3 linked regions of the Homo sapiens genome follow. The protein of the gene in region 2 purifies or fractionates together with the protein of the main gene of each other region. This does not show direct contact. Each region holds a gene or a part of one and is shown on either strand. Other genes may lie near its edges.

Region 1 (3,751 bases), on a different chromosome or scaffold from region 2:
AAAAACCCTGATGTGAATTTTGATTGGGATTGCCTAAAATTTATCTGATAATTTGGGAAGAATTGACATCTTTTATGATAGTGCCTACATGAACATAATGTTTAGCTCCGTTTCTTTTTTTTTTTTTTTTTTCTGAGACAAGGTCTTGCTCTGTTGCCCAGGCTAAAGTGCTGTGACACGATCACAGTTCACTGCAGCCTCAAGATCCCAGGCTCAAGCAATCCTACTGCCTCTGCCTCCTGAGTAGCTAAGACCACAGGCATGGGCCACCATGCCCAGCTAATTTTTTTGTGTGTATTTTTTGTAGAGACGGGGTTTTTCCATGTTGTCCAGGCTGGTCTGGAACTCCTGAGCTGAAGCAACCCACCCACCTTGGCCTCCCAGAGTGCTGGGATTACAGGCAGGAGCCACCACGCCCAGCCTAGCTCCATTTCTTGAGGTCACCTTTTACGTTCTTCAGTGTTCCATAAAGTTTACCGGTACTTTTCTTGGGCTTTTTTCCTACATTGCCTGTAGTTTTATAAATATATAGTCTCTCTGTTATAAATACATAGTATCTTCTTTTTCTATTTTTAATTGGTTATTTCTATGGCACAGGAATGTTACTAATTTACGTATGTTAATTTTATATACACGGACTTGCAAAAAAACTCTTGTATTGGTGCTAATATTTCTAGAGGTTCTCCTGATTTTCCACGTAGACAATAATCATGTCTTCATCAAATTAAAGGTGTTCTCTGTCTCCAACCCTTCCGTTGTTTTGTCTTAGTGCTCTGACAGAAGAGGATCACCAACAGGATGCTGAGCAATACGTATCATTTTGTTCCCTTTCTATTATCGGCTTTCTCACTTCCTAACCTCCTCTGCCTCTTCCCTGATCTGGTTTGAGTTTCCTGGAAGAAGCCGAACAAAAGCTAAGGTCTCCCTAGGTAGCCATGTGTTGCTGCAGTGGTCAGTATGTGGATATCTATCCCGCTTCAAAGTCTATGTCACCCATATAAAATCAAATATAGTTAAGAGAAAGTGTAGACTTTCAGACACTGCTTGGACTTGAAAATATATACTTCAGCTTCAAAATAGTAAAACTAAACATTTAATCTGGGGACATGATAGCTTCGTAGGGGCCTACCAAAAAGGTACCAAAAATTACAATATATCTTTATTTGTTTATTTATATCTAAAATTAAGCTATAGATATCAGCATTCCTTTACACTTTTTTCTTTATATATATACACACACACATATATGCACATATACAAATATATACTTTTTTTTTTTCTGAGGAAGGGTCTCATTCCCATTGCCCAGGCTGGAGTGCAGTGGCATGATCTCAGCTCCCTGCAGCCTCAACTTCCCTGGCACAGGTGATCCTTCCTCTTCAGCCTCCCGAGTAGCTCGGACTACTAGCGTGTGCCACCACGCCTGGCTAGTTTTTGTATTTTTAGTAGAGACATGGTTTCGCCATGTTGGTCAGGCTGGTCTCAAAACTCCTGGCCTCAAGTGATCTGCTCACCTAGGCCTCCCATAGTGCTGGGATTATAGGCACGAGCCACCACACCCAGCCAGAAGTTAACTAAAATGTTCTGTATCTCATTTCCTATCTATGCAACTGAATTCACTGAACGTATTTCAAATATCTAACATTCAACTCTTAAGTAGAATTAACACAAGCATTTAACACAATTATATAAAACAACATATAATTTCTTGAAGAAATTATAGATTTAAGATGGCTAATAAGACTCAAGACACTTCTTCCAATTCTATTTATTTATTTTCACAAATCAGAGGTTAATTTCAAGCCTTTTACTGAATACTAATTTGAAAATGTCCATATGCTTGGCATCTTCTATCAACAACAAATCCCAGCGGCCTAGGTTCTATTGAAGGCTTGACACAAGCACCTTATTAGATCTGTGATGTGTCTCTGCAAATCATATTCTATCTTTAGACACAGATGCCACGATTAGCACCTCATGAGTGATGACACCACTTAAAAAGTAATCTTCTCTGTGAACAGCATCAAAACAAGCTGTCTTGTAAGTAAAGTCCGCTCCACTGTGAATGATGTTACTCACCAATGTATATAGGACCTACATTTTTTAAAGAAACTCATAAAGAAATAAAGCACCCGTACCTCTAGTTTTTCACTGAACTCCTCAGTATAGGGAATAAATCGACTATCTGTGTCCCCCTTGTAAAACCAAGTACAGCGTCTCACTTCGGCTGGCTCCTCTTCCCAGTAGGCAGCCTTCCTTATTCGGTCATAGAGGTAAACATCGTAGCGCCCTCCATCCGTGCCAAGAACCACGCTCTCCGGATCTGGCTGAACTAGAGAACAAAATTAACACTTTTCCTAACTGCTGCAAGGCATATTGTAAAATAATAAATAATCTGCTGGGCGCAGTGGCTCATGCCTGTAATCCCAGCACCCTGGGAGGCCGAGAGAGGTGGATCACTTGCGGTCAGGAGTTTGAGACCAGCCTGGCCAATGGTGAAACCTCCCTGTCTACTAAAAATACAACAATTAGCCAGGCGTGGTGGCACACGCCTATAATCCCAGCTACTTGGGAGGCTGAGGCATAGTAGTTTGAACCCAAGAAGCAGAGGTTGCAGTGAGTCCAGATTGCGCTACTGCTCTCCAGCCTGGGCAGCAGAGTGAGACTCTGTCTCAAGAAAATAAAAATGAAATAATAAATAATGAATACGGTGACTACTCAATCTTTAAAGACAAAAAACTAGGCTCATTTTTATTTCAAAATAGAAGTTTAAGATTAATCTGTGCTGCTCAAAATTATGACTCTTAAGTAGAAAAGAAACAGCTAGGGCAAACTTTAAAAACATAATTCAAAGAACTGATGGATTTTTTTTATCAGAACAATAATATCTACATACAATAATACAGTGATATAATAATATATCAGGATAAACAAAGAAACACATTTCTACACTGCAGGACTTCTCAAAGCATTAATGTACTCCTGCACACCATCTCTCTCAAGACCTAGATACAGAGAGCAGCATTTCCAAAACTCATCTGACCAGGGAACCCTTTTTTCACAGAGCATCTCCAGGATAGAGAGTTCCACAGAATGCCCTTTATAAATGCCCCCATAACTACAAATGAACAAGGGAAACAGAAAAATTGAAACCTGGATTATATGAACTGCTCAACTTCTCTGATTCAAAATACCTTTAAACTACGAAGTAAATTACTAAAACATTTCTTCAAATACCTTACCCAGGTAACTCAGGACTTATACTAATATCGTCACCTTAAGGTACAGAGTCTGGGGTCTATAAGGATTAAGGTATTTGACATTCACAGAAAATAGATCATGAATAAATGATCTCATTCCTTCTCTTCCTAAAATCAGATATGAATGATGTATGACCAATGTTTACCTGAATTATAGATTTCTTCAAGATTCAAAGAGTCGAACACACTAAAAGGCATCCACAGTTGTTTGTATTCTACCTCCTTGCAGTAAAACCAGTGGGGCTGAACAGGCTCATATTGGTTTTGAAGTAGAAAAGGAGATGGCACTTGAACAGAGGGAGCCCCAGGTCTGGCAGGTACCTGCTGCTGTGCCGGTGACTGCACTGAAGAAGGAACCTGGAGGGGACGGCAAAGTTAAGACTGTCATGCTTGTCCAAAAGAATTCTGAATATGCTTCACACCCAAACTGATGTTAGTAGATTATCCTACATGTATATCTGGACAATTACTTAGTGTAATAACTAGACCCC
Region 2 (3,751 bases):
GGGTTCAAGCGATTCTTCTGCCTCGGCCTCCTGAGTAGCTGGGATTACAGGTACACACCACCACGCCCGGCTAGTTTTTGTATTTTTTAGTGGAGACGGGGTTTCGCCATGTTGGCCAGGCTGGTCCCGAACTTCCGGCCTCAAGTGATCTGCCCACCTCGGCCTCCCAAAGTGCTGGGATTACAGGCATGAGCCACTGCGCCTGGCTAATAGATGTTTTTTTTGTTGTTGTTTGTTTGTTTGTTTGTTTGTTTTGAGACAGAGTCTTGCTCTGTCACCCAGGCTGGAGTGCAGTCGCATGATCTCAGCTTACTGCAAGCTCTGCCTCCCGGGTTCACGCCATTCTCCTGCCTCAGCCTCCCGAGTAGCTGGGACTACAGGCGCCCGCCACTGCGCCCGGCTAATTTTTTGTATTTTTAGTAGAGACGGGGTTTCACCGTGGTCTCGATCTCCTGACCTCGTGATCCGCCCGCCTCGACCTCCCAAAGTGCTGGGATTACAGGCGTGAGCCACCGCGCCCGGCCTAATAGATGTATTTTTGAAGTTTCGTGGTGGTAGACGTTTTAAGTAGTGATGTTTGTAATAACTGTCATTTATGAGCATTTGTTTATATATGCCAGGCACTGTTCTAACCACTCTGAGTAATACCACTTATTTCTCACAACAACCCTGTAGTATAGATACTGTTCTCCTTATTTTAATGAGAGAGGAGCCAGGACATACATGGATAAAGCGACATGATTAAAGTCAGAGGTGGACATAGTGAAGCTGGAATTTAAACTGAGGGTGTCTGCCCTAGACCCCATGCTCTTAATTGCCGTGCTATAGATACTGTCTTGGAGATGGCATGTATGAACAAGCCCACACAATTTTCTTTTCCTTTCTTTTTTCTTTTCTTTTCTTTTCTTTTCTCAATGTTTTCTTAGAACATTGAGTACTAAGGCTAAGAAATAAACTTTAGTAAATGCTTTGAATTCACATTTAACTATTTTATGTTCTTATAAATGTGTCTCTTTCTTTTTCAGTCAATGTTACACATTAACCAAGCATTAATGAATTAGGTAGTCCTTGTACTTAGGTCTTAGAAATACTATAATTGTATTCCATTTTTTTAATAATACAGCTATTTTGATTTCACTTTTAGAAATTATTCTGAAGGCATCTTATAACCTTTTCCCCCTTAACCATACTTTCTCCTTTTTTAAAAAGTAAATGATCCTTTAAAGAGTTAAGAATTTAAAAGTAAATGTTTTATCTGAAACTGGTCACTCTAGCTCATTAGTCTACTTGTTTTCCCCTAAATATAAACATTTAAAATAAATCAAAACTTTCTGTATATCTCCTTCTGTGCTAAGCAATTTTGAGTCTAAAAAGGGGTAAAAGTTTTGAAAAAAGACGTTATTTGTCTAGTTGGTGAGATAAGATAGCACATAAGGCAACTGGTTAAAAAAAGGTAATTGGAAAATATGTAAACAATATGTGCTAGTAGAATGTTACAAAATGTTTATTAAAATATAATGACGTTATTATAAAATGCTTAAATCATAGTATTGACAAGTACAAACTTGTCGGGGAGTATTTAGATCAATGTGGATTGAATCATCAGGGCAGTTTTCATGGAGGAGCTGGAACTTGAATTTATTATTAAAGATCAGGTGAGACAGTTGGCAAAGAGGAAGAAGAGGAGATTCATGTAAGAAAATAAATGCCTTTTTTATATCTTAGAAAGTTGGAATTTTTCCCCCCAAATAACCCTGAAGTTTTCTTGTTTAATCTCATGATAGTGGTAATCTTTAAAAATAGCAAACCTATCAAAAGCACTAACCCATGTGCTGAGCACTTTTTTTGGCTCCCTATTATAAAACGTATGATCTCATTGGAACCTCACAGCATCCCATGAGGTTGTCACTCTTTTCCCTATTTTACGAATGTAGAAACTGGGGCTCAGGGAGGTTAAATAATGTGTCCAAAGTATCATAGCTAATAAGTAACAGAGCCAGTAGTTAAATTGAGGATTAACTCCAGAGACCATGCTTTTAACCATGTGATACATCCTGCCTCCTAATCTCACTTTGCTCTAACCTAACACAATTTCTAAAATGCATTTCTTCAGTTTCATCATGCATGCTGGTTGCTTTGTTATTGTTTCTTCTAAATGTTAATATTTCCTCTATGATATAAAAATTGAATACCTGAACTTGTTGGAAGTAGAAAGAACTCTGGAGCTAAACTTGCAAGTTCCAATCTTGGCTCTGCCCCTTGCCCCCTTGCTAGCATGTACAGATTGTCTAACTTTCTGTGTCTTAATTTTTTCCTCTATAAAATCTCCTTCAAATATAAACAATTTGCAGGTACAAGACTCGGAGCATATGTTTAAGGCAATCTTAAGGAAAATGTTAGAGGATAAACTCTGGAGCTGAGTAAGGAAACTGGCAAAAATACTCTTGGAGAGCATTGAGTATGCATTTTAACTGCAGGACTGAGACTGGAACAAAAGTGAGAATGAGGAAGAAAGAATAAAATGTAAATGTTAAATGTCCAATAATGTAAGGGATTGATTATACAACTAATAAAAAGAGAAGAGGAAAGAAATTGGAGGTAGAATAAGTTTGTGAATTGCCACATCTGTAATGGCTATGAGTCAAAGGACATCATTTAAAGCTGACAGATCAGTTAGTAGAAGTATAAGGAGTTCAAAGGTAAACACTGAGAAAGATAATACTATTGACTATAACCATGTTGTGTGGATGGGCAGTAAGATTATACAAGCTAATTTCATAAGTGCTCATAGTAGGGAGTTAATAGTTTCTGTGTAAAGAAATAGAGGATTAATGGTATTAAGTAAAATATTTAAAATTACAGTTAAAAAGATAGAATCAGAAACACATATTATAATGAAAATATACATCATCCTAATTATCAGAAAAATGGTAATTGCACAAAAAAGAAAACAGACAATGAAAGACTTTTTAAAAATTATTACCCAAAGATATTAAACCAAAGTAAAATATGGTAAAACTAAGACCAACCATGTCTGTCATGTCAATACATTTTAAATGTCCTTAGCTAACCTACTGTGAAAAGATTTTCAAATTGGATCACCAGTAAAATCTGTTGGTTTTTTGTTTGTTATTTTGTTTGTAATGATGACAAAGTAGTTCTGAAGGGCAAAAGTATACATGTAAAGGCAAACAAGAGGTGGAATTCAGACCAAAAGTCATTATTTGAGACAAAGAAGGATATTCATAAAGCTAAAGTGTATATTTGACAGTGAATTTGAACATTATGGATATGCACCAAATAACTATTAAATAACAAAGTAATTTTCATAAAGCAAAAGTTTCAGGAGATACCATGAGAAATTGACATAAATATATTAGCAGTAAGAGACTTAATTCACTGTTTCGGTCCAAGGCAGATCAAGTGGACAAAAAAGTAAGGATATAGGAGATCTAAACAAATCAATAAAGAGGACTTAGTTAATATATATTGAGCTCTAGGCCCTGAAAACAGAGAGCACCCCTTCTTTCTAGGTCCCAAGAACAATTCACAAAAATTCACTATATAGGCTCTATTGAAAGGAAAGGAGGAATTATAGGCATAGGGGATTTTAGGACAAGGGAACTACTCTGTGTGATACTATAATGACAGATACATGTTGTTATACATTTGTCAAAACCCATAGAATATACAACACCTAGAGTGAGCCCTCATATAAATTGTGGAGTTTCAGTGATAATGATGTGTTCAT
Region 3 (3,751 bases), about 80 Mb from region 2:
CAGCTCAGTGGATTCACATCCAAAAAGCTGAGCCTTGAACAAAGACTAAGCAGGATTTTTATAAGCAAACTTACAGAAGCAAAACAAAGGCAGTTAATCATATAATGACAGGTCACATAATCTATAGCATAACTGATGACTTGGCATAACTTGTGGCCTTGCATAGCTGGTGGCCTTGTAGCTGCGTTGAAAGAAAAAACCAAGAACTGGCTAAACACAGATATTTGTCCTCTTTTTTTTTTTTCTTCACCCCTGCTCTGGAAGGGGGGTGTCTGGAGCCTATTCCTTTGGATTCGACTTCTCAAACAGAACAGCGTTATCTTATAACTGTCCTTAAAGTGAGCTTGCTAAGCAAAAGAAAACTTGTTCTTCTTTTCTTTTTAACCCTTGCCTTGCCACATTCTGGGCCTTGGCTTTTTCTTTTCTTGGAGTGAATGAATGCAGTACTTATTACTATTTTTAAATTTCTGCCTCACTTTAATAATGATAAAAGGCTGAATTTTTGCCAACTTGTCCATCTGTGACCACGTCGTGCTAAAGCACACTTGACACACCATAGAGCCTCAGATCAAACCTCAAAACCAAGCAGCTATGTTAAAAATAACATTGCCCTACAATCATTATCGGAAGGTTCTCGCCCAGAGTAGTTCCCAGGCTGCTATTCTTTGTCCCCCTTAAGACCATAAAGACGCCGTTCTTTTTTGGTGGGACAGGTTGTCCAACACAAGCAGGACACTGCCTGCCGCATCCTGAAGCAACACTGTCACCGAGGTCACACCGAGAGGACAGGACAAGGACACAGGGCAAGACTAAGAAGAGCAAAGCGCAGACTTCTCTCATCTGGGCCAGGAGATGGGGACTGGGACCTGGCCCGGGCAGCCTGACCACACTGCACAGACCCCGGCTCCGGCTCCGTGCAGATCTGGGTTCCCCCAGTGGGAGGTGTCGGGGCTCTCCAGGGAAATCGGGGTTCTCCGGGGATGTCGGGTTCCTTCAGGGGGGCCAGGGTTCCCCGGGATTCGGGGTTCTCTGGGGGGGGGGTCGGGGGCGCCTGCCGCGCACCCACCTTGACGCGCTTTCAGCAGCAGCGAGTTGGCCACGATGTTCTCGAGCTCCATGTCCTGGCGCCGCCGCCGCCGGCGGATTCTGCGAGACCGAGGAGACTGAGGAGGCGGAACAGGAGGAGACGCCGCCGCCCCCGTGCATAGCTCGCCGGGCACCACCCTCTCCTCGAGCTCCGGACACGATCCCGGGAGGCTGCTCCGCCGCCACCACTGCCACCAAGGGCGCCGCCGCCGCCGCCTCCGCAGGCCCTCACCAGCAGGGGAGCGGTCGGGGCGAGGGGAGGGGGCAGCCCGACCGCGGCGGGTCCCAGCTGTCACCGCTGCCGCGCTATCGCCCCGGTTCTTCTTGGCCCCATCGCCCTCGCCTCGCGCGCGCAACTCCCTCCTCAGTGCCCTGCCCCCGGGCAGCCCCGAGTCAATGCCGTGGCTCACTTCGGACAGGGGCTCACTGGCAGGGGCGCCCGCCGCGGCCGGCGACCCGCTCCCGGGCGGGCTCGGCGCTAACGGCTTAGCTGAAGAGGGAGCGCCCCTCGCCGCCGCGGCCGGGGCACTACAGCTCCCAGAAGGCCCTGCGCCAAGAGTACACGGCGGGCCGCGGCGCGTGGCCTGCTGGGAGTTGTAGTCGCTGAGCCTATCGGCGAGTAAGCCGAGCCTGCGGGCGCGGTGTTTACTTCTCGCGAGTCGGAGGTGCTGCGCTGTTCTCGCGAGACGAGGAAGCGGTTCCGCGGCCCGGCACGTGTCTTAGGGTAGCGCGCGCCTGTCTCTCTTCGGGTCTCGGGCCCTTGGGCGCAGCGGGGCGCGCGCCATGGCGAAGGCGAAGAAGGTCGGGGCGCGAAGGAAGGCCTCCGGGGCGCCGGCGGGAGCGCGAGGGGGCCCGGCGAAGGCCAACTCCAATCCGTTCGAGGTGAAAGTTAACAGGCAGAAGTTCCAGATCCTGGGCCGGAAGACGCGCCACGACGTGGGACTGCCCGGGGTGTCTCGCGCACGGGCCCTCAGGAAGGTAAGCGGGGGGCGCACGGGGAGCCGGAAGGCAGGATCTGGACCCCACGCTGCTCTCGGCCGGCTGCGTCCTTCTCGGTGCGTCGGTTTCCTCGTTGAGCGGCACAGGCCGTGACAGGCACACGGCACTGACTTGATAGTCCGAAAGCCTCTGCTGTTCTCTGAGCTGGAGTGACCTGGAAACTCTCGCCGTCTTGGAGACCCTGCACTCGTGTTATTTCGGCGACTCCTCCAACCGGGTCAGGCCGAGTCAGTCACTTCGGGCGGCGCCCTGGACCAAGCTGCTTGTTAACCCTTCCGCGTTTACTTTGAGCTCTGCAGGTTTGGGGACGGTGGATAGGGGCTGTGTAGGATGCTGCGTTTGATGTTTCATCGGCTCTCTCCCGAAGCGCGTAACCTTGTTCCTTGGGAAGTAACTCTATGGAAACTCATTGCTTCCTAGTTTTTTTAACTTTTTTTTTTTTAAATTTTCACTGAGGAACATACATTAGCAGGTTGGTGAAAAAATTAAGGCACAGAAAGGACAAGTGCATTTCCTAAGGTCACGCACCTGGTAAGGGCTGGGCATGCATTCACATTTCAATATCTACAAAGCCTTCTTGCTACCCCGAGCGCTTCTGTTTGACCTCGCTTCTAGGTTCGGGGAGATAAAGGTAAATAAGACTTGCCCTTGCCTTCATGAGCTCCTGATCTCTGTTCATCACAGTGTGCAAGCTGGATGGTCTTTGAATCAAAACACATATTATCCTTACTGCGCGAAGACGACAGCCTGTATAATGAATAGGCAAGATAGACTTACAGCTGACTTCGATAGGAGTCCCTCATTACACACCCCCGGGCCGGGGTGGGAGAATAAGGTAGTGTGGTTCCCTAGAAGAGACACATTTGTCTTCACCACTGAAGCCTCAGTTTTCTCATTTCAAAAGTAGAGATGATAGTATACATCCTACCCCTCGTGGTGGTTTGTGAGAATTAAGTAAGATAGCACATAGAGCACACAGCAAGTGTTCTCTAAATACTGTTATTCTTAACCTTCTTGGCTTGTCGTTCGAGTCCCGCACAGTCTGGCTGTTGTCCTTGCTTCGCCTCTTGCAACTCAGTTTGTCCAAAAGGTCTGCCTTACCTCCGAAAGTCTCTAAAGGGCCAGCTCAGGTTCACCACCCAAGCTATGTAACCCAAATAGGACAGGTTGCTCAAACTTCTGGTATTGAGCAGATCCACCTCCCTGCCCTGTGCTGAAGGCCTGGGACGGGGACGGGAATTGCTGCTCCTTTTTGGATCTCCAATGCTTGGCCCTTGGAAGAAACACAAATATTTGAAGAAATCAAAGATGGAACCTGAGTGCCTTAGGAGATCCCGGTCAGGAAAAAGTGTAATAGTTAGGAAAGTCCAAAAATTCTTCTAGAGGGAGTTACAGTCAAGTTTTGCAAGGGGAGTGAGCTGTTCATGGGCCCAGGGTGGGCAGAGGACACACATGCAAAGGCACATTGTCCCGGTATGGTGAAGTGTGGCACTCACAGCTGTCTGAGGGACAGCAGGTCGTCCAGTTGACTCCAAGCTTGATAACGCGTGTAGGGGCCGTGAGGCCGGCGCAGGAGGCCTGGGTCTTTTCATGTGGGTTAGTCCCTTAGAAGTAAACAGGCTGCCTCAGTTGGCTTCTCCCCTCTGGTCAGTTGTAGCACTCTGAG

The links.
Region 1: the proteins of SEC31A (region 2) and SEC23IP purify together in Homo sapiens (affinity purification with mass spectrometry; 3 studies listed by BioGRID and IntAct, with this or other methods). This does not show direct contact.
Region 3: the proteins of SEC31A (region 2) and NOP14 purify together in Homo sapiens (affinity purification with mass spectrometry; 3 studies listed by BioGRID and IntAct, with this or other methods). This does not show direct contact.

Annotation. Positions count from the first base shown.
Region 1 is NC_000010.11:119,902,665-119,906,415, reverse strand, and holds part of SEC23IP (SEC23-interacting protein), read right to left. Parts: intron 3,618-3,751; coding exon 3,407-3,617; intron 2,333-3,406; coding exon 2,139-2,332; intron 1-2,138. UniProt on the Homo sapiens protein: Plays a role in the organization of endoplasmic reticulum exit sites. Specifically binds to phosphatidylinositol 3-phosphate (PI(3)P), phosphatidylinositol 4-phosphate (PI(4)P) and phosphatidylinositol 5-phosphate (PI(5)P).
Region 2 is NC_000004.12:82,884,550-82,888,300, reverse strand, and holds part of SEC31A (protein transport protein Sec31A), read left to right. Parts: intron 1-3,751. UniProt on the Homo sapiens protein: Component of the coat protein complex II (COPII) which promotes the formation of transport vesicles from the endoplasmic reticulum (ER).
Region 3 is NC_000004.12:2,961,438-2,965,188, reverse strand, and holds the start of NOP14 (nucleolar protein 14), read left to right. Parts: upstream 1-1,782; 5' UTR 1,783-1,869; coding exon 1,870-2,064; intron 2,065-3,751. Other genes in the region: GRK4 (G protein-coupled receptor kinase 4), read right to left, coding at 1,067-1,118. UniProt on the Homo sapiens protein: Involved in nucleolar processing of pre-18S ribosomal RNA. Has a role in the nuclear export of 40S pre-ribosomal subunit to the cytoplasm.